Homo sapiens: one gene and its partners. The protein of the gene in region 2 purifies or fractionates together with the protein of the main gene of each other region. This does not show direct contact. Each region holds a gene or a part of one and is shown on either strand. Other genes may lie near its edges.

Region 1 (6,243 bases), on a different chromosome or scaffold from region 2:
ACTTGGGAGGCTGAGACAGGAGAATTGCTTGAACCCAGGAGGCAGAGGTTGTAGTGAGCCGAGATCATGCCACTGTACTCCAGCCTGGGCAACAGAGCCAGACTAGGTCTCCAAAAAAAAAGAAAAGAAAAAAAAAAAGAGCCTATTAGACAAAGCTTGTTTGTTTGTTTTTGGGTAATAAGAGTTGAGCTGATGAAAGTCATCTTTTGGGGCTGGGTATGGTGGCTCACACCAGTAATCCCAGCACTTTGGGAGGCTGAGGCAGGAGGATTGCTTGAGGCCAGGAATTTGAGCCCAGCCTGGGCAACAAGGTAAGACCCTGTCTCTACAAAAAATAAATTAGCCGGGTATGGTGGCATGTGCCTGTAGTCCTAGCTATTCAAGAGATAGAGGCAGGAGGATTGCTTGAGGCCAGGAGGTGCTGCAGTGAACTGTGATTGTGCCATTGCACTCTAGCCTGTGTGACAGAGTGAGACCCTGTCTCAAAAAAAGAAAATCAGCTTTTGGAGGCAGTGTAGCAAACCACATTCTACACACACAATCGTCCTCTAAGAGAGGACGATTCTATAAGCTGTATTATCAGTTATCTTTAGCTTTATTCTTTCTTTTTGAGACGGAGTTTTGCTCTTGTTGCCCTGGCTGGAGTGCAATGGCACGATCTCGGCTCACTGCCACCCAGTTCAAGCGATTCTCCTGTCTCAGCCTCCTGAGTAGCTGGGGCTACAGGCATGCGCCACCACACCCGGCTAATTCTGTATTTTTTTTTTAGTAGAGACAGGGTTTCTCCACTTTGGTCAGGCCAGTCTCAAAACTCCTGACTTCAGGTGATCCACCCGCCTCAGCCTCCCAAAGTGCTGGGATTACAGGCGTGAGCCACCATGCGTGGCCAGCTTTATTCTTATAATAAGTACCACCTAGGAAAACCATTATTCCCTATTTTAACAATATGATAATAATGCAAATGTTTAGTATAGATAGTATTTGCTTTTAAAGGGAGATAACTTTGTTTCTTGTTTTGTCAATTTGGCATCTTACTGTTTCTTTTTTTTAATGAAAAATGTTTAAAAATTATGTGGTCTTGCTATGTTGCCCAGGCTGCTCTTGAGCTCCTGGGCACAAGCAGTCCTCCTGCCTCAGCCTCCCACAGTGCTGGGATTATCGGCATAAGCCACTGCACCAAGCCCCATGTTACTGTTTAACACATTAACCTGAGAGGCACAGAATCTCATAAAATGTTTATTGATTTGGTCTTGGCTTATTGTGTAAACCATTTAATAGCCAAAAGTCAGAATTTAAACATCTAAAATACACTGAAAATGTGTTCTTTTCCAATAACATGGATGTTCACAACAGTTGGTGTTACGTTAGAGCTAATAATTATACTTTAGCACGTTAACCTCAGAATTCTAAGGCTGAGAGTCAAACACTGCTAATTCATAGAAGGCAATAGCTTGTAATAATGAATCATAAAGCTCTTCTACTCTTTGTAGTTCAGTAGATAAAAACATCTGTCTGTAGTGAACTATTTTATCTGATGGGAAGAACACCCGAGGATCCGCCTTCAGTATAGAATCGAAGAGAAACTGCTTCACTAGCTCTTTTCCACTAGTCCGGGAGTCACCAATCATCAGTTCAAAATGCTTCCCCACTGCATTTCGATTCATGCTCAGCACCTGATGCTGCCCATCCTGGGCAAAAGTTTTATTTAATAAGGCATACAGCATGGCTTCCATGATATGAAAATGTAACAGTATTGGAAACAGAGATGAGTTCTGAATGGAAAGTCCTGTTTTTTCCAGAACATAGAAATCTGCTTTAGGCATCTTTGAAATGATCGAGGAAATCTTTTTAAAAAAAGACAAAATAAAGGAACAGAAATAATTCATTACATTTTATGTTTGGTCCCCTCTCTGTCCCACTTCTATTTAAAAATATTATAATTAGTTAATTTATACTATATTGACAATTTTGAAATAACTGAAAAAGCCATTTTATGAGCAGTCTGGTTCTGGTCATGGTTATGTCACAACAACAGCTAAGCTAAGCTGTTTAGTCCTCCTAAGTACCAGTTTCTTGATCTGTACAGTGGACTTCATAATTTCTAAAATATGTATTGGCTTTAAGGTTAGACAACTTAAAACTGTTTTACTAAACCTTCAAACATTTTCTGGGATAGAGCATACGGTTAGAATAACTAGCAAGAATCAATCACCTCTGCAACTGACTAATCACATCAGATGCTTGACTGAACCACAGATTTCATATGTATAATCAAGGTGGTAATTCCTGACCATTAAGGTGATAATTCCTGACCATTTCGCAAGGTTTTGAAAACTCAAATGAGACAATGTGATGGCATTTTGAAAAATAAGCTTTATAAATAAAAGAGTGATAATGTTCTATAACATTTAGAATGAAATACCATTGATTTTCTCAGTATCTGCCTTCGATGCATAAGGCATTTCTTGAACTAACTAAAGGTTGAATTTTTAAAAATCAAAGGTGATGGAAAACATAATAGGAATAAGTGAGTAACAAGTACCAGAAGAAAACCCATCTTTACTATTTTATTACATTCCTTTTGGGACCAGAAGATTAAACTACACAAGGAGCTCTAGCAGGTAGGAATCTGGAGGTGCAACTGCCTTACCTCTTCTAAATAGACTGATGATGAGTATATTCCTCTCATTAAACTCCAACGGTCACTTTGCTGCCAGTCCAGCACTGTCAACTTACGATCAAGGTGAGCCCAGGCAATTCTTCGAGTACCAAAAACGATAGATATGATACTATTAACTGCCTAAAAGAAAAGACTGATTTAATTAGAAGTATAAACATTTTAGTTTTTTCTTTTTTTGAGACGGAGTCTCGCTCTGTCTCCCAGGCTGGAGTGCAGTGGCGCGATCTCAACTCACTACAAGCTCCACCTTCTGGGTTCATGCCATTCTCCTGCCTCAGCCTCCCGACTAGCTGGGACTACAGGCGCCCGCCACCACGCCCGGCTAATTTTTTTATTTTTTTTTTTAGTAGAGATGGGGTTTTACTGTGTTAGCCAGGATAGTCTCGATCTCCTGATCTCATGATCCACCTGCCTTGACCTCCCAAAGAGCTAGGATTACAGGCATGAGCCACCGTGCCTGGCCAGAAGTGTAAATATTTTAGATGCAAACATAATCTACAAATTCAGAATGCCTAACTAGTTTATGTAATATAAACTTATTTATAGTTTATGAACTGAGAATTATTAAAGAAATGCAGGAGTAATTATTATTTTGTTTGAGATGGAGTCTCGTTCTGTCACCCAGGCTAGAGTGCAGTGGCGCAATCAGCTCACTGCAACATCCACCTCCCAGATTCAAGCAATCCTTCTGCCTCAGCTTCCTGAGTAGCTGGGATTACAGGTACCTGCCACCACACCCAGCTAATTTTTGTATGTTTAGTAGAGACAGGGTTTCACCATGTTGGCCAGGCTGGTCTTGAGCTCCTGACCTCAAGTGATCCACCTGCCTCTGCCTCCCAAAGTGCTGGGATTACAGGTGTGAGCCACCAAGGAGTAATTATTATTAAAAGGTAACCAGCAGCAGTCAGTTTATAGATAAAGGACCTATACTCATTCTCAGCACCTTGCCCAAAGTAGGCATTCAAACTCAAGTGTAGCCAAGGTCTGCACTAGATACTAGGAAACAACAAACGTAACTGTACATTATAAGAAATGCCACCATAAAACTATTGTAGAGAGAAGTGGTCAGGGAAGGTTTACTGGAGGACTAGGAGAATGAGACAGTAAATGGGAAGTTATTTCACCCAGATGTCTGGAAAGATAGGCTGTTTGACATCTCACACTCTGGCAGTAGAATAAAGACTGAATAGGAAAAGGGCAGAGGACAAGGCAGATGTCTATAAAGGTAAGTAACTTGCTTTATCCTGAGTGCTACAGGGGCCACTAAAAAAACAGAATTTTAAGGAATAACATAAGATTTACATTTCAGAAAAATCACTGATGGTGTAAAAGATGGGCTGGAGGGAACTAAAGGTAGGGATCTGTGTTAGGTACCTGTTACAACATGAGAAAGTGTTAAGAATTGAAGACAATGACAGAAGGAAAAGAAACAGATAGTGGGAGCAGAATTAATACATAGGTTTAACGAGGAGTCTAGAATAATTCCAGTTTTATATCAGTGACTGAATGGCATCATTAATGATGACGAAGATAGGAGTCACATGACCTAGGGAAGGTGGGAAGAAATTTTTTTGTTTTGTTTTGGTTTGTTTTTAATGCATTAAGTTTGGGTTGCCTATAGGGCTTCTAAGAGGAGATATATAATAAGTAATTGAATATTTAGATTTTGCTTCCTATCAAGTCTGGGCTGACGATGAAGTACAATGCTATCACCTTTCCCCAACATGGCTCACTTAGTTATATTAACAAACTAATATGTTCTATAGATACAGAGGCAAATAAACAGGAACAATTAGTTGTATACCCATCTCCCTTTCATTGCTAAGGACTGGATAAATATCTTAAAGACAAAATAGTATAGATGCCCAAAATACAGACTTCCTTTTGGTTTTCTTTAGCTAAGTGACTCTCAAGCTTTACTGTGCACAAGCATTACTGAACCAGACTACACACAATACTTCGTCGGCAATCGATTTTTTCTTAAAGGATTTTACTGCATGACTTATATCTCCATAAAAACTGACTTAAAATCCAGCCCCCTAAATAAGATGCAACTCCACTCTAATCTGGGTATAAATAGTTTTGGCCATGAATCTGGATGAGAATCCTCCCTGAAGAATTTGGTTAAAATATGTTCCAGATCAATTGCAGCAGTTCTACTTGGAGTCCATGAGTGGACTTAACAGAATCTGCCAGTCCTCTGAAACTGTGTAGTATTCTGTGTATATGTGCTATATCTTTTTCTATGGGAAGAGGGTCCACAGCTTTCATCAGGTTTTCAAAAGTACCCATATTCCTCAAAAAACGGACCCACTGGTCCAGAAAAAAAATGGTGCTTATGATTTTTATGAGATAATGATTATCAAGCAATGTTACACAGGACATGAGTTCCTCTAAAGTTTAATACTTGAGTGCTGTGGCCGGGCGCAGTGTCTCACACCTGTAATCTCAGCACTTCGGGAGCCCGAGGCAGGTGGATCACGAGGTCAACAGATCAAGACCATCCTGGCGCCAACATGGTAAAACCTCATCTCTACTAAAAATACAAAAATTAGCTGGGCGTGGTGGCATGTGCCTGTAGTTTCAGCTACTCAGGAGGCTGAGGCAGGAGAATCGCTTGAACCTGGGAGGTGGAGGTTGTTGTGAGATCATGCCACTGTACTCCAGCCTGGCGACAGCACAAGACTCTGTCTCAAAAAAAAAAAAAAAAAAAAAATTGGCTGTGTCAAATATTTCTAGTATTTATTTTTTTAAGACAATAGAAAAAGAATTGCTTTTAGAATGGTGTTTTTTTTTTTTTTTTGAGACAGAGTCTTGCTCTGTAGCCAGGCTGGAGTGCACTGGCGTGATGTCAGCTCACTGCAACCTCTGCCTCCCAGGTTCAAGAGATTCTCCTGCCTCAGCCTCCCGAGTAGCTGGGACTACAGGCCCACGCCACCATGCCCAGCTAAATTTTGTATTTTTAGTAGAGATGGGCTTTCACCACATTGGCCAGGATTGTCTGGATCTCTTGACCTTGTGATCCGCCCGCTTTGGCCTCCCAAAGTGCTGGGATTACAGGTGTGAGCCAGCCGCTTTTTTTTTTTTTTTTTAATCTTACCTATAGACTTGCATGATTCAAGATAAAATGCTTTTTAAAGGAGAAAAGGTACAGAAAATAATTTTAAATTCTGCCGGAAAGACTGGTATAATGTTCTAAAGTCACTCACTGGCCATAACCTATCTTTGCTCCTTAATTTCTCATTAATCCTAACATCACCCTTAGACACAGCCTGGTATCTCCAACGACACTCCTCTTAAATAAGCCTTGCCTAGACCTGCTTCTCAGCATCAACTGTTCTTTCTACCTACAATGCCCTCCTCTCCCATCCAAAGGATCTCTCTTTTAAGACCTAAATTGAGTTCTTCCAGTAAACTTTCCACAACAGTCACAGCCCATTGTTTTCTCTCCTCTCAACTGCCAATTTACTATCTGTACATCTCATTATTTGGTAGTGATCATATACTTGCCAACTAAACCTGAAGAACCCTGTCTTAGCCACTTCCCAACCCAATGCCCAGAA
Region 2 (8,490 bases):
TTATACAGATAACTGTCTAATTAAAATTATGATAATTTCTATAAAGTAGATGTTTAAGGTGCCATGAGAACTGAGAGGGTATCTATATCCAAACGAGTGTGGAAACTCAGGAAAGGCTTCCTTGAGTAATACTTTATTGTAACTGAGTGAAGTAATACAGTAATAGCGTCTAATATTTATTGAGTGCTTACTATCTGCCAGGCACTATTCTAGTCTCACAACCATGTTTCTGATATCTATTTTACAGATTAGTAACTGAGAAATGGAGAGTTCAAAGAATTTACCTTCAATTCATAGCTAGTGAGTTGTGAGGCTGGCATTCAAACCTAGGCTGTCCCACCTTAGAGCTCCATTACAATATTCTTGTCTTTCCAAGGGAGGCAGCCTTATGCACAGCCTCTGAGGAAGGGTGGTACTTACTGTTTTGAGGAAATACAAGAATACGAATGTGATAGGAGTGCACTGAAAGTGCCACAGGACAGGGTGGGATCTTGTGGAAGGAGAGAGGCCTATGAAGCTCAAGAGTCAAATGAGGCCAGATTGGTTCATTTAAAAGATTTTAATGGGGTTGAACTACATGCATGTTCTTCATGTCTTTCTCAGTGGGAATACACTCAGAGGAGTATTTACCATAGAACTAATGAAACTTAAACTTCAGGATTCCTCACTACGTGGGATCCTGTGAATTCTGGAAATTCTTGTGAGTTATAGTGTTCAGAAGAGGCCAGGATGCAGTCAGTGAGCATTTCTGGTTAATTTCTAAGAGCTCTCAGAAGAAGAAGGCTCTTAAAATTGTATCAGCTTTAGGTATCACAAAACCTGGATCCATTTCTTAACATTTCTGGCAACAATATCTGTCTCATTTCGCATACTGATTTGGGTGGGGTGTCTGAAGGAAGGTGGCTGAGAATTGCTGTCTTAAGGCATGATATGATATCAGAGTCAAAAGACCCTGAAATGCGCTTATACTTGGCACTAGTTGGTAAGTCATTAGGCTGTAATAAAAACTGGGTAAAAGTAGACTATTTAAAAAATAAGAACCATGGAAAAAAAGTCTATGAAAATAAAACTATACAAACTTTGAAATTATTGTTCTGATCAGTACAGTTATATTTGTTGATAGCCTATGTGCATTTCAGTATTTACAGCTTAGGGCATAAACATGTAGCCGTAGCATAAACAGCTTTTGAAACTATGTTTTATAAATGTGGAAAATACTCTTGACTGGAAACTTTCTAATCTATTTTTATTCTTGGTTTCAGGCGCCTGATCACAGATTCAAAAGTTAAATTAAAGTATCAGCATTTAATAACAAATAGCTTTGTAGAGGTAAGTGATTTGTTTTCCTTCTTGTAAGAAGGAATTCTGTTTATTAATAGAAATACTATTTTAAAAATTATAATTTATTGACAGTAAAAAACATCTTTAACATATTTATGAAGCATGCCAAAATACCTTTATTCTCAAAAGAGTATGACAGGCCAGGTGTGGTGGCTCATGCCTGTAATCCCAGCACTAAGGGAGGCCGAGGCGGGTGGATCACCTGAGATCAGGAGTTCAAGACCAACATGGCGAAACCCTGTCTCTTCTAAAAATACAAAAATTAGCTGGGCACAGTGGCACAAGCCTGTAATCCGAGCTACTCGGGAGGCTGAGGCAGGAGAATCGCTTGAACCCTGGAGGCAGAGGTTGCAGTGAGCCGAGATGGCGCCACTGCACTCCAGCCTGGGTGACAGAGCGAGACTCCCTCTTAATAAAAAATAAAATAAAATAAAATAAAAGAGTATGAGAAACCAGTAAGTACATCTCTCCATAGATCTTGACCTTGGATAATAAAATTATTTTTACTGTATTCTTCCTTTACTTTTCTTTATCCCTAGCTGAGAATTGTAGTAGATTACTAATCGTGTCATGTTTAATCATGTTTGAGATTCTAACCCTGCTATTTCTCTGCTCGTTTTAGGTTTCATTACCAGTAAATCTTGTTAATAAAGAATGCTATCCTTTATTGGACCATGCCTTTGCCCATTTGTTCTATGACTCCTTTTGTGCTACAGTGGCAGAGTTGAGTAGTTGCTACAGAGACTGTTCTGGCCTGCAAAACCAAAATTCTTTACCCTCTTGGCTTGTTACAGAGGAGTTTTTCAGCCCCTGTATGACAACATCAGTAACTTGGTCTTTTAATTCTAGAAAGTAATTATTTCTGTTAGAGATTAAACCTGGAAACAGCCTATTTTAGAAATAGTGTATTATTTGAAATGGTCAATGGACTTCTGAATTCTGGTGCAGAGTGTTTTTTTTTCATAATACTATAAAAGTTATATTTCCTTTTGAGGAACTAAAATGCAATCTTTGCCTGTGGTTTAGGAACTGGGTTTTTTGTTTGTTTTTTTTTTTCCTTCTTACAAGAGCTTTTTATGGGAGAAGTTGTATGTATATCCTTTAGCCTATCTTGAACTATTCTGTAGCTTCTAAACACCTTCCTTGATAAAGAGTATATCTGATTTTCTTGTGTCTTTTGAAAATTGTTCTGAAATAGAACTGTAAATAAATTAGTGGTTTTTAATGGTCACATACATGATATTTAATTAAAGTTATTCAGTGGGATTTTGAAGATAGAACAAGAGGTGATTCATGTATTTTATAAAACCAGGTCTTCAGGGATCAGTCATCTTTAAAAAAAAAAAAAAAAGGCACATCTGAAGTGTTGCTATAGAAGACCACAGCAAGTTTTCATAAGCTTGTGTAATTATCCCCCATTTGCCCCTTGTACCAGAGAAGCAATATAAATAGCTTGATGTACTAGGAAATCTTGCATCATGACCTAATTTAATTTGCTGTCTTTTTTTGAGGCAGGGCCTCATTCTAACACCCAGGCTGGAGTGCAGCAGATGATCACAGCTCTCTGCAGCCTCTACTTCCTGGGCTCAAGTGATCCTCTTGCCTCAGCCTCCTGTGTAGTCGGGACTACAGGCACATACCACCATGCCTGGCTAAATTCTTTTTTCTTTTTTTTAAGGTAGAGACAAGGTCTTGCTATGTTGCCCGGGCTGGTCTGGAGTGCTTGACCTCAAACAGTCCTCCCGCCTTGGCCTCCCTAAGTTCTGGGATTATAGGTGTGAGCCACTGTGCCCAGCCAGCTGTCATTTTTTATTTTCTAACTTGTATTTCAGTGCAATCGACTGTTAAAGTGGTGTCCTGCCCCAGATTGCCACCATGTTGTTAAAGTCCAATATCCTGATGCTAAACCTGTTCGCTGCAAATGTGGGCGCCAATTTTGGTAAGCAAGTGATTTCCTAAATTGAAATAGTGCACAAAGCGTTTCCATTTCTCCTGTTTATTCTTGGTAGTAAAATAGCAGAAAAAAAGTGTTTACCTTAGGCAGGGAGATGTTTGATACTGGTTTAAAATAGTATATATCTCTTTCAGAATTGAATGAAAAGGTCACATCTTAAAAAAATTTTTCCTCTTTCCTTGATGTTCTAACTTTTTTGAATTTTTTTTTATGGAGAAAATATACAACTCTAATCATATCTTCCTGTATGCTCCACTGTAACTTAATGGGAGCAAACTTGTAGATCTGGGACTATACGTTTTTCTTTACTCTGCCAAATTTTAACCTTACTTATGCAAAGGAAATGTGCAGGTAAATTCTGCTGATGGTCTCCTTTTTAACTAAGAGTTTTCCTGTGGCTCCTCTCGCCCAGCTTTCTTGGTAACTTGGGCTTTTGGAGTTCTATAGTATACTCTTCAGCCTCTGAATTCTAGATTTGAACTGCCAGGAAGTTTCCAGTGCCACATATTAGGGGATGTCTTAATCAGTTCAGGCTCCTTTATAGGTGTTCTAGTTTTTTCCAAAGTGGATAGGCTGAAAATTTTTCAAATTTTTGACTTCTTATTTCCTTTTGATGAACAGTTTATCTCTAGGTCATTCATCTCTTCTTGCATTTTCTATAAACATTCAAGAGAAGCTAAGCTGCGTCTTCAACACTTTGCTTAGTAATTTCCTCAACCAGATATTCAGTTTCATTTCTCTACCTTCCACAAAACAATTCAGCCAACTTCTTTGCCACTTTATAGCAAGGATGGCCTTTCCTCTAGTTTCTAACAGCATGTTCCTCATTTTCATCTGAGACCTCATCATAATGGCCTTTACTGTCCATATTTCTAACAACATTCTGTTCATGGCCATTTATTTAGGTTTTCTCTATGATTGAGGCATTCCCTGCACTTCTGTCTTTCTGAATCCTCACCAGAATTACCCTTAACAATTCAGTTCATTCACAGTGATCTAGGCTTTTTCTAGCTTGCACTTCCAAGCTCTTCCAGCCTCTACTTACTACCTAGTTTCAAATCGGCTTTCACATTTTTGGTTTTGTTAGAACAGCACCCTCACTTCTTGGTACCATTTTCTGTCTTAATGTTCAGGCTTTTATAACAAAAGACCATAAACTGGGCGGCTTCTAAACAACATAAATTTATTTCTTACAGTTCTTAAGGGTGAGAAGTCCAAGATCAAGGTGCCAAAAGATTTGTTGTCTGGCGAGGGCCTGCTTTTCTGGTTCATAGATGGTGCCTACTTGCTGGGTCCTCATATGGTGGAAAGGACAAGGCAGCTCTCTGGGCCCCTTTTTTTTTTAAAAAGGATGCCAATTCCATTCACCTCCTAAAGGCTCCACATCCTAATACTGTCACATTGGTTATTAAGTTTTAACATACACATTTTAGGGGGACACAAACATTTATATCCTGCTAGAAGTTAAGATGATTTTCTGTTCCTTTGAGGGTCTTGAGGAGTAAGAAGCCAATCAAGTCAAGGGGCTCTAGACCCAGCAAATAGATTTTTTGTTTTGTTTTGTTTTGAGAGAGGGTCTCACTCCATCACCCAGGCTGGAGTGCAGTGGCACGATCTCGCACTGTAACCTTTGCTTCTCAGGTTCAAGTGATTCTTGTGCCTCTTGAGTAGCTGGGATTACAGGCGTGTGCCACCACGCCTGGCTAATTTTTATTTATTTATTTATTTGTTTATTTATTTATGTATTTATTTTTAATAGAGACAGCATTTCACCTTGTTGGCCAGGCTGGTCTTGAACTCCTGGCCTCAAGTAATCCACCTGCCTCGGCCCTCCCTAAGTGCTGGGATTACAGGTGAGAAGCACCATGGCCAGCCAGATTTTCTTTTTTGCTGCGGGGTGGTTTGGAGGGGGAAATATTTTATTGGTATTCCATACCTTTCTTTTTTTCCTCCAAACATCTATAGAATTACACTTAACACATCATTAATAATAAATATTTCCAAAAAGAGCAGGTAAGCTCACAGAGATTAAGTATGTGTAAAATACATACTGTTTCGATAAAGATTAATTATGTATTGTTATTTTAGAGAAAAGGTGGATAATACCTACTTTCCAATGTATTTTTAGCGTGACACATTTCAAACATAAAAGTATAGAGAATACAGCAGTGAATACCTATATAGCTACAATCCAGTTAAATCAAAATTAGTATTTTGTTTTTCTTCATTAAGAGATAAAACATGACACATATATTTGAAGCTCCTTGGTTCCCTGCTCCTTCCCATTCCCCATCTTTCTTTTCAGAAATAACCATTTATCTTAACCTGATTTAAATCAATAGTAGTTTGTTTCTGTCTTTAGCAAAGGACTTTTTGCCATTCGTAAATTACTTAATTAGCTAATTAATCTGTCATTTTATTATTTTTTTCTTAAGCATTTGTGTTTGTTAATTATACTTCTTTTACAAGTGTATATGTCATGAACTTAGAAAACAAAAGTGAATTACTGATTAACACATGTTTAGTGAGTATTTAGTCTTTTTGTTTTATACCTTGCCCAGTACCATTTCCCTCTACAGGGCGGAGGTTCATTTGTTTAAATAATGCAAAGATGTGACCTATTTGCTTCCCATATATTGTTTACTGTGTATTAGTACTAAATTATATAAGTAACCTACAAAGTCAGCCTTTTATTCTTCATTTAGGGTGTTAAGTAAAAGATTAAAAATGCACTGATGAAGCATGGGTTGAAACTTCTCAATATAGTCTGAGGCACCTTAGCAACAATTATTATGAAATTGTCATCAAAGCGTGTCTTCATGCTTATAGTCATTCTTCACACATATTGAGTACCCACTATGTGCTAGTTCTACTACTAAATTCTAGGTAATTAACTGTAAAGCAGACATGGGTTCTCTCCTTGTATTTGCCAGTCACTAGAAACTAGTGACAATACTGTGGAACTATAAGGCATGAAATGATTGGCTTATTTACTTGCTTACAGTAGGTAGGCCTTAATTCTATTAACTCTTTGTGTCACTTAACAGCTTTAACTGTGGAGAAAATTGGCATGATCCTGTTAAATGTAAGGTGAGTTTGTCTGACATTTCAATTTTTAAATAATGGCACACTTCTAAGACTTAGTGACTAAAAATCATAGCTGATGATTTTGTTATCTATCTATTGATAGATTTTTTTTTATCCTTTTAATTTCAGATGATCATTACATGTATTCAGAGGTAATTCCTTAGGATAAGCCAAGTCAGCTCCTGATTGTTATTAGGATAACCATGGCTAAGGCACCTCTTTGTCAGGCTTTGTAATTAGGGGAATACACACCTTGCAGTTGGGCTTCTCTTCAAGCTCTAGGTTCCCCACTCAGCTTCTGCCAAAGAAAATCCTGCTTTGGTTGATTTTATATATACTGGACATTGTAGCTATGGGATTTCCCTGGCTTAAGAGGATGTGAGCCTAGTGATAATCTTATTCATTGGCTTTTACATTTAAGCTTGACTATAGTTAAGTGCTAAAGTAATTTGCTATTTTTAAAAGTCTTTTGTTGTATCCTAACCGTTGTTATTTTCAAACAGTGGTTAAAGAAATGGATTAAAAAGTGTGATGATGACAGTGAAACCTCCAATTGGATTGCAGCCAACACAAAGGTTGGTGTTTTCCTTCAGTAACTCTTGGTAATAAAAATGATAAGGATTGGTACTTTGGCATTAGCAAAAGCAATGAGGTGACCTACTTACAGGCTTTGTTTCATCTTTTTCTCCATTGAGTCTTTTTTTTTTTTTCCCAGAATGTTTGCCTGTTATTTCCTTTTTCTCTTTGAGTTTATTTTAGAGTATTGAGTACTGTAGTACAGCATCCACAGTTCTCTGCCTTAGGTTTCTTCTACTGGAAAAAAAATTAGTGTTCTGTAGAGGAAAAAGCTGATAATTTTTCAAGTGTGGGATTTGTGCTTGGCTGCCATTTAGTATACAAATGCATTGGAGTTTACTCCGCCTAGCTTGGTTCTGTTAGGCTAATTTACATTTTTGTTTCTAATTTTTTGTTTTGAAGTACATTGCTCTTGATACTAGTTTCAAAATTCAATTTCAAAATTCACTTTCTTAACCCCAGACAAATGTCTTAGAAGTGTTTAAATCTTGAGTACCCTTCTCCTCGATCACTAATCTAATGAGCAAGCATTTGAATGCCAACCGTGTACCCAGCTAGTCTTTTAATACAAAGTCGTATTATCCATCCTTTATGTAATTCAGTCCTATCCTATCCCCATAGTGAGTGACTTGGGTAATGAATGGTAGGTTGGTTCATGGGCTATTCATTTTTAGTATTATTTTGTACATGTAAAGATGATGCTTTAAAGAATGCTGAGTTGTTTGACCCATAGTATATAAAGCTATCTTTGAACTGTTGCCTCAGTCATCACAGGACAATGAGATTAAGAAGTGTGTAAACAATGAAGGCCGACGCAGGTTGTCTGTGTGTGTTTAAATATACATCTTACATACTTATATATAAAACATGAATTTATATTTCTGTCTCCCAGAAAGTAGTGAAACAGTGAATCTTGCCACATAAAACAAATGCCCAAGTCTTTAAGGAATATATGGTAGAAATTAATATTTTTTGTTCCCTCCAAAACCATCACGATAAGCATAACTCACGTCAATCAAAGAAAACCTTACTATAAATATACTGTAATGTCAGAAAGTGGTTACTTGTTTTGTTATTAAAAAAAAATTCTTAGCCAAGCATTCTTTTTTTGAAAATTGAAGATTTTCCCACAAGAAATGTTCCTTAAGTCCCAGAATTCTTTAATATGCTCTGAAAAACTAATATTTAGAATAAGGCAATTATATTTTCACTAAATTGTTTAATTAAATGGTAGCCTTTTTTCTACATCTAGAGAAATTCCTACTTGTAAGCCCCAAAGATGTTTAAAATAGGGAGTACAGGCTTGAATATGTTTGGCTTAGTTTAGATTGTAGATTACCAAGGAAGAATGGCAATTTGTAAAACAAATTTAGCTGCTCAGTATTTTTGAGAGAAAACTGAAGAGTTTTTCTCTTGAGGTTTTAGAAGCTTTTAAGATTATTAGCTCCCTAAACAGATATGCATATTGTCAGTGATATCCTAACATTTTGGAGGTTTAATACTATTAGGTTAATTATAACCAAGAAATGTAG
Region 3 (8,490 bases), on a different chromosome or scaffold from region 2:
ATGCTAATTGATAATTGTATAGCAAATTGAAAATTCTGAGTAAACTTAAGGTATGTTTAACAACAAAATAAATATAGCATATATGGCTAGCTTATAAATTTCTTAGTGTAAAGGCAGCAGTGAATTTGCATCTTGCAACAGATCTGTAAATCCAGTTGCTGTTTTTCTGGAATTTTATAGATATGATGTCTCACAAAACCATGTTCCACAGGGCTAGAAATATCTCTATGCAAAAACTTATGAGATATTTTCCCCAAATGACATGTAACTTTTAAAAACTTTTCCAGAAAAAAATGAAAATTTTATCAACCACTTATTCTTACTGAAGAAAAAAGACTACTAATTGCTCTTTTAATTTTGCTCTAACGGATGTTTTAAAAGTTTAGACACCAATGATGTTTTTGAATTGCACACTGCTAGAAGATAACTGGATAAAACACATTAGATGATTTCAAAAGATGAATCAGTACCTGATTCATCTGGCACATCATTAGTATCCAGAATAAAATCTGTAGAAATAATATAATTTTCAAAGAACTTATACATGCATACATTCTTATACATGCCTACATTCTTATTTATACATGCTCCATTCTTAGGAAAAGGAGCCTCTAAATCCAAGGACAAGGAGGTTCTGCTCATCTTACTAGTTATAATCATTTCTCCTCATGGAGTAACTGGGGCTTTCTGATTTTGTGGAACTTTAGTTTGTAGGAAAGCATAAACATGACGTTAAATCTTGTTGGTTTCTGCTCTGGAGAGTGTTTCCAACATCCCTGTTTTTTTCTGGTAAAGTTCTGGGACTGGCTCCATAAGTCTTCAGTCTCTTGATAACTGTGTCTCTGGTCTATTATTCTCAGGCCGAATGAGAGGCTTCCCAGTCAGATCAGCAATACCCACAGTTTGGGGACGGTTGAATTCAATGTAGTCGACTCGGCCACTAGCTAGATGAACAGCAAGCAGTGAAGTGTTGTTTAAATGACCTCCAAGGGCACATACAAGTTAATCATTGTGTCTATCTGATAAGCTCATCTAGGGCTTCTGCCTATGGCAGTGTCCTTGGAAAACCAGCTATATTAGGTGAGATTTTTCAGTTCATGAAGGGCCAGCCGAGTCGTAACATCATTTGGGATGAGTTTCCCTTGGTCAAGAAAAGCCTTGGCTAACATACCAATTTATGTGCCCTGTAGCATGTTGTCCTGGAGCAGTCCCTGCTGGAGAGGTGCCTCAGCTTGAAGTGTTTGGTGATGTACAACAACACAGTGCCCTTGCCTAAGCCCAGGTCTGGGGCCCCCATGATCACTGCATGCAGTAGCTGCGGAGATGCCCCTGCAACCATGGACAGAGGCCCAGGCTGTGCCAACTGTAGGGCTTTCGTCTGACCTGTGCACTCACCTGATCCACAGCCAAGGTCCCAGATGGTAGAAAGCACTTTTATTTTTTTTTGTTCAAGTTAACCAGTGCTTTCCTTTTCCTCTATAAAATGTGCTGGCTTGGAAACAATTCAAACATTCACCCATCAGTAAATGGATAAACACATTTTGGTATATCCATGCAATGGAATATTATTCAGCCATAAGAAGAAATGAAGTACTGATAAATGCTACAATATGGATGAACCCTAAAAACACTGTGCTCAAAGAGGCCAGACACAAAGGGCCACCTTTGGTATGATTCAATTTATATGAAACACTCAGAATAGGCAAATTTATAGGGGCAGAAAGCAGATTCATGGTTGCCAGGCCTGCCAGAGGAAGAATGGGGAGTGACTGCTAGTGGGTGTGGGAGTTTCTTTTGGGACCTGCTAGCTGTAGGGTCACTTTTTTTTTTAATGTGGTAAAATACACATAAAACTTACCGTGACATTTACTACATTTGCAATGTTGTACCACAGTCACCACTATCTAGTTCCAGAATATTTTTATCACCCCAAATGTAAGCTCTCTTTTGATCTTTGAAGGTGAAAAATATCACTAGAATATATCTGAGGGAGGAATATCTTAGTTCATTGATCAGGTTTAATACTCAGTATAACTTAGTCCGAAAGTTAAAGTTCTTTTTTTTTTTTTTTTTTTTTTTTTTTTTAAACCCAAAGAAGTCGTAGTCTTATTTGATTATTGCTTTCTCCATCTGTTCCTTCTGGAACTCCTACCTCACACTGCAGTTCCTGTATCTTCCTTCCCTTTCTTTTATCTTCTCACTAGTGGCTTCCTTTGCATTTTTGTTTCGTATCATGAGGCAACTTCCTGTTTGATCTTCTTCGGTTTGAGTTTTAAGAGTATCGATTCTATTTTTCAATTCAATTGAATGTCAAAAAACTGTAAAACCATATTTTTACACATCGTATTTTTAAGTTTGCTTTTTTTTTTTTTCTTGAGACAGAGTCTCACTCTGTAGTCCAGCCTAGAGTGCAGTGGCGCAATCTCGGCTCACTCACTGCAACCTCCGCCTCCCGGTTCAAGCGATTTTCCCGCTTCAGCCTCTGGAGTAGCTTGGACTGCAGGCGCGCACAACCATGCCCGGTTAATTTGTTCCCTTCTATTTCTCACATTAAATTTGCCTTACAGGAGCCATTCATTTTGGCTGTTTAGCTTGGTTTTCTGTTCCTCAAACTACTGTTTTTTTTTGTTTTTTCCAAGACAGGGTCTCACTGTCTCATGCAGCTGGAGTGCAGTGGCAAGATCTCGGCTCACTGCAACCTCCGCCTCCCGGTTCAAACGATTTTCCCGCCTCGGCCTCCGGAGTAGCTGGGACTACAGGTGTGTGCCACCACGCCTGCACTCGGCTAATTTTTGTATTTTTTTGGTAGAGAGGGGTTTCACCATGTTGGCCAGGCTGGTACTGGGTTTAATTTTTTACATGATCTTTGCCCGATTCCATCAGCTGCCACCGGTTCCTTTAGCATTTGTGGAAGCTCGATTGATGGACTCTTTCTGGGCAGCAGAGAATTGACAGGTGGTGAAAACTAAGCTAGGAATTATCCAATCAGCTGACATTGAGAGCCATGCTCAAGGCTAAACAGAAAGCAAGCAGAAGCAGTTTCCCTAGTTATTGGGCTATGGCACTTGGCTCACCTGGCTGGGCCACTGTCTTTGCCAGAAGCTTAGCCAGGAATCAGGCTACTTTCTAGGTGGCGGGGCTGTCCTTCCTCCCAGCTTTGTGAACAGTAAGGATAGAAGGTATCCAGAGGCAAAACTACTAAATGGTCTCCTCAGAAGCCCAAAGCCTAAGATGTGCTTAGCACAGACTCACTCCAGGTTCCACACTATGCTTTGCACCACCACATCTACTACCTACCTATATTTCAGCCATTCTTCTTTGTAGTTGAATCACCCCAGGAGGAAATTTAGAGTGCTAGGGAGTTATAGAAACATACATAAGCCATCATTTCCAAAAACTTAATTAAGGTAATTCCCCGTTTATAGTATTGTCTGAAGATAATTATTTATATAATGGAAGTAACCTTAAGTCTTAGGAATATAAATCTTATTGATGAGTGAAGCCCCAATTACGGCCCAAAGAGATGGAAGGACTCATGCCAGAGTGTCTCTGCTGTACAGGTAGGATTAGAGATTGGCCTTTTATTTTCTAATATAGGGATCTTTTCAATATGTAGACCCATGGCTACCTTTTAAAAATTCCTTCAGTATATTCACCTGCATAGCTATTTCTCTTCCTGCTCCATCTAGTCCAATCCCTTTTCTGGATATTAGGCTAAGTCTCATTTTTATTCCCTTCACCTGACTTTTACTTCCTCCTGAAATTTATTCTGCTGCTTTCCACCTGCCTTCCAAGATCTCTCTCTCTGTGCTCACAGTGAGGGGGTATGCAGGAAGGAGTACTAAAGTGTCCGGAAGGAGGAAAGCCTACAAAAAGTAGGGACAGAGGAGACTTGCCAAAATTCTGAAGCATCTTCAGGAGCCCTTTGCATCAGTCTTTGCGTTCTTGTCATTTAGCACCCCTCTTCTTTTCTCCTGGGTCAAATATCTTAGCACTGACTGGATTCTTTGACCCCTCTTTATACTTTCCTTCATTCTACTTTTCTTTCCTCCCTGCTTTCCTAGCACTCCTATACCAGCGCTCTTCCCTTTCTTTAAAGCCTCTGAATCACAACAAGCGTAGGAAAATGGAATTAGAGTAGTCCCCCTTATCCATGGTTTTGCTTTCTGTGGTTCAAAAACATTAAATGGAAAATTCCAGAAACAAACAATTCATATGTTTGAAATTGTGTGCTGTTCTGAGTTGTGTGATGAAATCTCACGTCATCCTGCTCCATCCTGCCTGGGACAGAAATCATCCCTTTGACCAGCATATCCATGCTGTATAACCTACCTGCCTGTCACTTAAGAAACCATCCTGGTTATGAAGTGGACTACCCTAGTATTGCAGTGCTCTGTTCAAGTAACCCTTATTTTACTTAATAATGGCCCCAAAATATAAGAGTAGTGATGCTAGCATATTGTTAAAGTTGTTCTATTTTATTATTATTGTTGTTAATCTTTTACTGTCTAATTTAGAAATTAAACTTCATCATAGGCATGTATGTATCATAAAAAACACAGTATATATAGGATTCAGTACTATCTGCAGTTTCAGGCATTCACTGGGGGTCTTGGAACGTATCCTGCAGATAAGGGTGGGCTACTGCACAAACATCTGGACGTTCATTCATGTGCCACTAAGGATCATCACACAGTGAAAAGCATACCACACTCTGGAAGGCTCTGATCAACTTTTTCTGCTTCTCCTATCACAAAATAGAAAATACTTTATTAATAGCTTCAAAATGGCTATAGCAGTCCCTCAGTTAGTATCTTAATTTATAGACTAAGGTTATGTTTTCTAGTATAAAACAGCATTTTGACAATGTGGGGAGGCAGCAAGGTGTAGTAGCTAAGAATTAGATTACTTGAGTTCCAATCCCAGCTCGTTCATACACTAGCTATGTGACCTCTGGCAAGTTACCTAACTATAAGTTGCCTCATCTGTGATAGACCTTAGCATATCATAAGTGCTTAAATAAAAGGAAACATTCATAATCATGTTACTATCACCACATGCAATCCTTATTCATTGTCCTAGATCCGTGAAAAACCATTAAAAATGCCATTTTGTGTTTTAGAAAATGTTGATATAATATTTAATAAGCTTGCTGCTGCCCAGGTTAATATGCATCTCTCTAAGCCCCTCTTAAATTTTATTACTAGAAAACGTTCTAGTGGACAATGTCTTTAAGGTTAAATGCGGATACTTAAAATCAGCCTTTTTAAAAAATTAAATTAGAAATAAAGGATAAAACAAAATAAACACACAACAGGAATCTGATATTTCTTACCAAGACAATTTGAAGCATCAACTTGTTCTTTCAAAAAATCAACACACATTTTCTTCACAGGTTCAATCTGATATTGGTTTGCTGCATCCAGCAAAGACTGAACATTGTTGCTATTCACGGAAATTCTGCAAATAAGTTAGAGGGAATATTAGTTACCCATGATTTTTTATTATTTAAATGTTACTGTGGAATGTATCCTAATAGCCCCTGAAATTAAACACAAAATTAAACTTTCAGTCCTTGAATTAGTATGGCATAGGATACTGAAACTCTTCCATCCTTGCGGTTTTTCATTTTGAAGAATTTGTAGTGCAACTATTTGTTACGACAATGCTTTGCCATGGTAGATACCAACATTACTTCTCTAAAATAAAAATAATACTTAACTCACCTAGCAGTATAAGCAAATTCCACCAGTTGTTCAATAATATCAGGTTCAGCATCTTTGAGTTCTACTTCAAAGGACTTTGATTCAAGCATGTTAGCTACAATGAAGAGAAGAAACATAAATGGCATCTGTACTACCACAAGTTTGACTGAGGAACCACGGCATTCCAGGCCATGTTAAATATGCAGAAAAATAACGGGACAGTTCTCTCTGGAAGAAAATGCCCCAGCAAGCCCAACATTTCTATAGTCAATGCAAATTAATTCTCCACCCAAGATGTGCCTTAAATTAAGCTAAGAAAAGAGTGAATTAGTGTACTTCTTTTTAAGACCATATTAACAGAAACATAAAACTAGATTTTGTTTTTTTCCCAAGCTCATAAAATAGTACTAAGTAGAGGAAGTAGGACTTGGACCCAGTTCTGAACACCAAATCCAGGGTTCTTTCTGGCACAATATGCTACAGCTATTTTTTTTTTAAAGTTTAACTTGCCGGCTAAAATATTATGAAATTTATCTGCTTCTTTGTCTTTCCACCTAAGGTTAAAAAGAAAACCCTGGGCTTTTTTTTTTTTTTTTTTTTTTTTTTTTTTTTGAGACAGAGTCTCGCTCTGACGCCCAGGATGGAGTGCAGTGGTGCAATCTCGGCTCACTGCAACCTCCACCTCAACCCTGGGCTTTTAAGTAGAAGCTGTACCTCCATCAATAAAGGCATCAGGCCTTTAGGTCTAATGAAAGGACATTTTTTCCTTTGGTTATCAGCTGACTACTTTTTCAATCTCTTCACTGTTCTGTGGCCTTAAGTTCTTAACTGCTTTAAAAATTAGAAAAATGACATATTCTCTTTTAGATTTTACTTCATTCTCATAGAAGAAATAATGGCATGTTTTACCTTAAGATACTTACTTGTGAACATTAAGTTAAAAAAATGACTGGCTGCAGCAAGAACAACACGATGAGCAGGTATCTTTCTTTCCTGGACCATGAGGATCACGTCACACAACGTTTTCTAATCAAAGGAAAAATACATAAAATAAAAAGAGGCTCACTAGCCTAGCTTGGCAATACATGTTAAAAAGGTGCTTGCCAAATGCTTTATCTCTATTTTCTATTTAAAGCCAATCTTTTTCCAGCGCAGAATTTCTTTTGAAGACATATTTAGAAAGGACTTACAGAGTCGCTGCCATGTAGTATAAAAATTTTGCACTGAGTTTTCCAACAGTCAAGAGGAAAGAAAAAGTTCCTCATAATCAGAAACAAGTCTACTAACCCTTCAGAGAAGTCTTTTTTTTTTTTTTTTTCTGACACAGATTCTAGGACATTTCTCATGGTAAGCTTTTCTGGGGGAAATTCAATGACATCATGGCAGTGCCCCTGACACCCTGACAGTTTTTCAAACACAGCAATTAGTTTTTATATGATTTATTTTCCATTATTTATCCTTGATGAAATTGAGAACATACACTGCATTTCCTAAGAAAGTAGCATTCACAGATCTAACTTGAAACAGAAACAGCTCAGAATACAGAGAGGAGATGAACTAAATGTCCTTTCAGCAATCTTTTATTAAATAACACTTCTCTCAAATGCACTTCTGATAGAAGCTGGATAGCAGCCAGTTTTAAATTCTGATTTCTGACCAACGTCAAAATAGTATCACCATAAGCTGCTTAAAGAAGGCAGCTCTGAGTAATACTTAATTAAAATGTGGGGAAAACGGAATAATAAAGAAAAAATTTAAGGCTTACTAGAACACTTATAAATGAATATCAAGAAAAATAAATGTCCTTTTTGCCAAATAAAATCTTAATTTCTTAACGAAGTTAAAGACAAAATATAGAGATTAGGCTTACAGAAAACTTGGTGTATACAATGTATTAAAGACTGTCCTAGGCACTGGGAATATGAGGCAAATAATATATTCAGAGTAAAAAAAATATCGCTTACAAATCTAAGATTGGCTTCATGGCTCAGAGGATTTGCATTTTGCAAATTTTAAGTATTTTACTAAAACTGTTAATATAGTTTCTGATAGATAAATCTGTTATTGTATTATTTTGTGAAGATAAAATAAAATAATAATGTTTAGAATGAGAGAGAAAATAAGCCTCAAATAGCAGGCTAGGAAATGAACAAAATTTCACTTTTACAGCTTATTTGAAGATTTTCAAATAAGGCCTAGTATTGACTATTGCTTAAAACTTATATGCAGGTTTATAACTAAAGCTATTTTTATTCTCATAGTGTCTTGAATTTTTAAATTTTATTTCATTTGGGGAGGGGGTACAGAGGCAGATCTCTCAGGTGTTTTTGCTACATACTATACCAAAAAATACCAAGTAGCATAACCAAGTTAACTATTTGGTTACCACCAAAAAACAAGTGATCAAGTTGCCTTGGAGGTCAAAGGAGGGAGAGAAGGAGAGGGAGAAAGGGGTGGGGAGTGAAGAATAAAGATGATAAAGCATCAAGCAAATCAGATTATATCAGATCATGGGGAGAAATCTATGGCCAGTGATGGAACTTCTATGAAACATAGGGTTAAACCAAAATACAGCAAAAACATCTCCAAGGCATACTCAACAACAGAGTTTATAAGTAGAATGACTTTATAGGCACTGAAGGAGGTTGAAGAAATGTAGATCTTTGTACAGCAACTGAGTTTTAGTCTAAGATTAATGTCCAGCTGGATATTAATGGTTGGAGGGGTGGGGAAAATAAGTAGGAAGAGTCTTTTGTATCCAAATGGTACATTTATTTGCCTATAC

Evidence for each region. The genes of interacting proteins can lie anywhere in the genome.
Region 1: the proteins of ARIH1 (region 2) and TEFM purify together in Homo sapiens (affinity purification with mass spectrometry; 3 studies listed by BioGRID and IntAct, with this or other methods). This does not show direct contact.
Region 3: the proteins of ARIH1 (region 2) and KLHL7 purify together in Homo sapiens (affinity purification with mass spectrometry; 3 studies listed by BioGRID and IntAct, with this or other methods). This does not show direct contact.

The regions. Positions count from the first base shown.
Region 1 is NC_000017.11:30,897,763-30,904,005, forward strand, and holds the end of TEFM (transcription elongation factor, mitochondrial), read right to left. Parts: intron 2,801-6,243; coding exon 2,651-2,800; intron 1,845-2,650; coding exon 1,407-1,844; 3' UTR 1,224-1,406; downstream 1-1,223. UniProt on the Homo sapiens protein: Transcription elongation factor which increases mitochondrial RNA polymerase processivity. Regulates transcription of the mitochondrial genome, including genes important for the oxidative phosphorylation machinery.
Region 2 is NC_000015.10:72,560,221-72,568,710, forward strand, and holds part of ARIH1 (E3 ubiquitin-protein ligase ARIH1), read left to right. Parts: intron 1-1,262; coding exon 1,263-1,329; intron 1,330-3,173; coding exon 3,174-3,280; intron 3,281-6,342; coding exon 6,343-6,385; intron 6,386-6,885; coding exon 6,886-6,957; intron 6,958-8,490. UniProt on the Homo sapiens protein: E3 ubiquitin-protein ligase, which catalyzes ubiquitination of target proteins together with ubiquitin-conjugating enzyme E2 UBE2L3.
Region 3 is NC_000007.14:23,122,018-23,130,507, reverse strand, and holds part of KLHL7 (kelch-like protein 7), read right to left. Parts: intron 6,732-8,490; coding exon 6,629-6,731; intron 5,821-6,628; coding exon 5,727-5,820; intron 5,461-5,726; coding exon 5,336-5,460; intron 4,748-5,335; coding exon of another isoform or gene 4,689-4,747; exon of another isoform or gene 4,458-4,688; intron 1-4,457. UniProt on the Homo sapiens protein: Substrate-specific adapter of a BCR (BTB-CUL3-RBX1) E3 ubiquitin ligase complex. The BCR(KLHL7) complex acts by mediating ubiquitination and subsequent degradation of substrate proteins. Probably mediates 'Lys-48'-linked ubiquitination.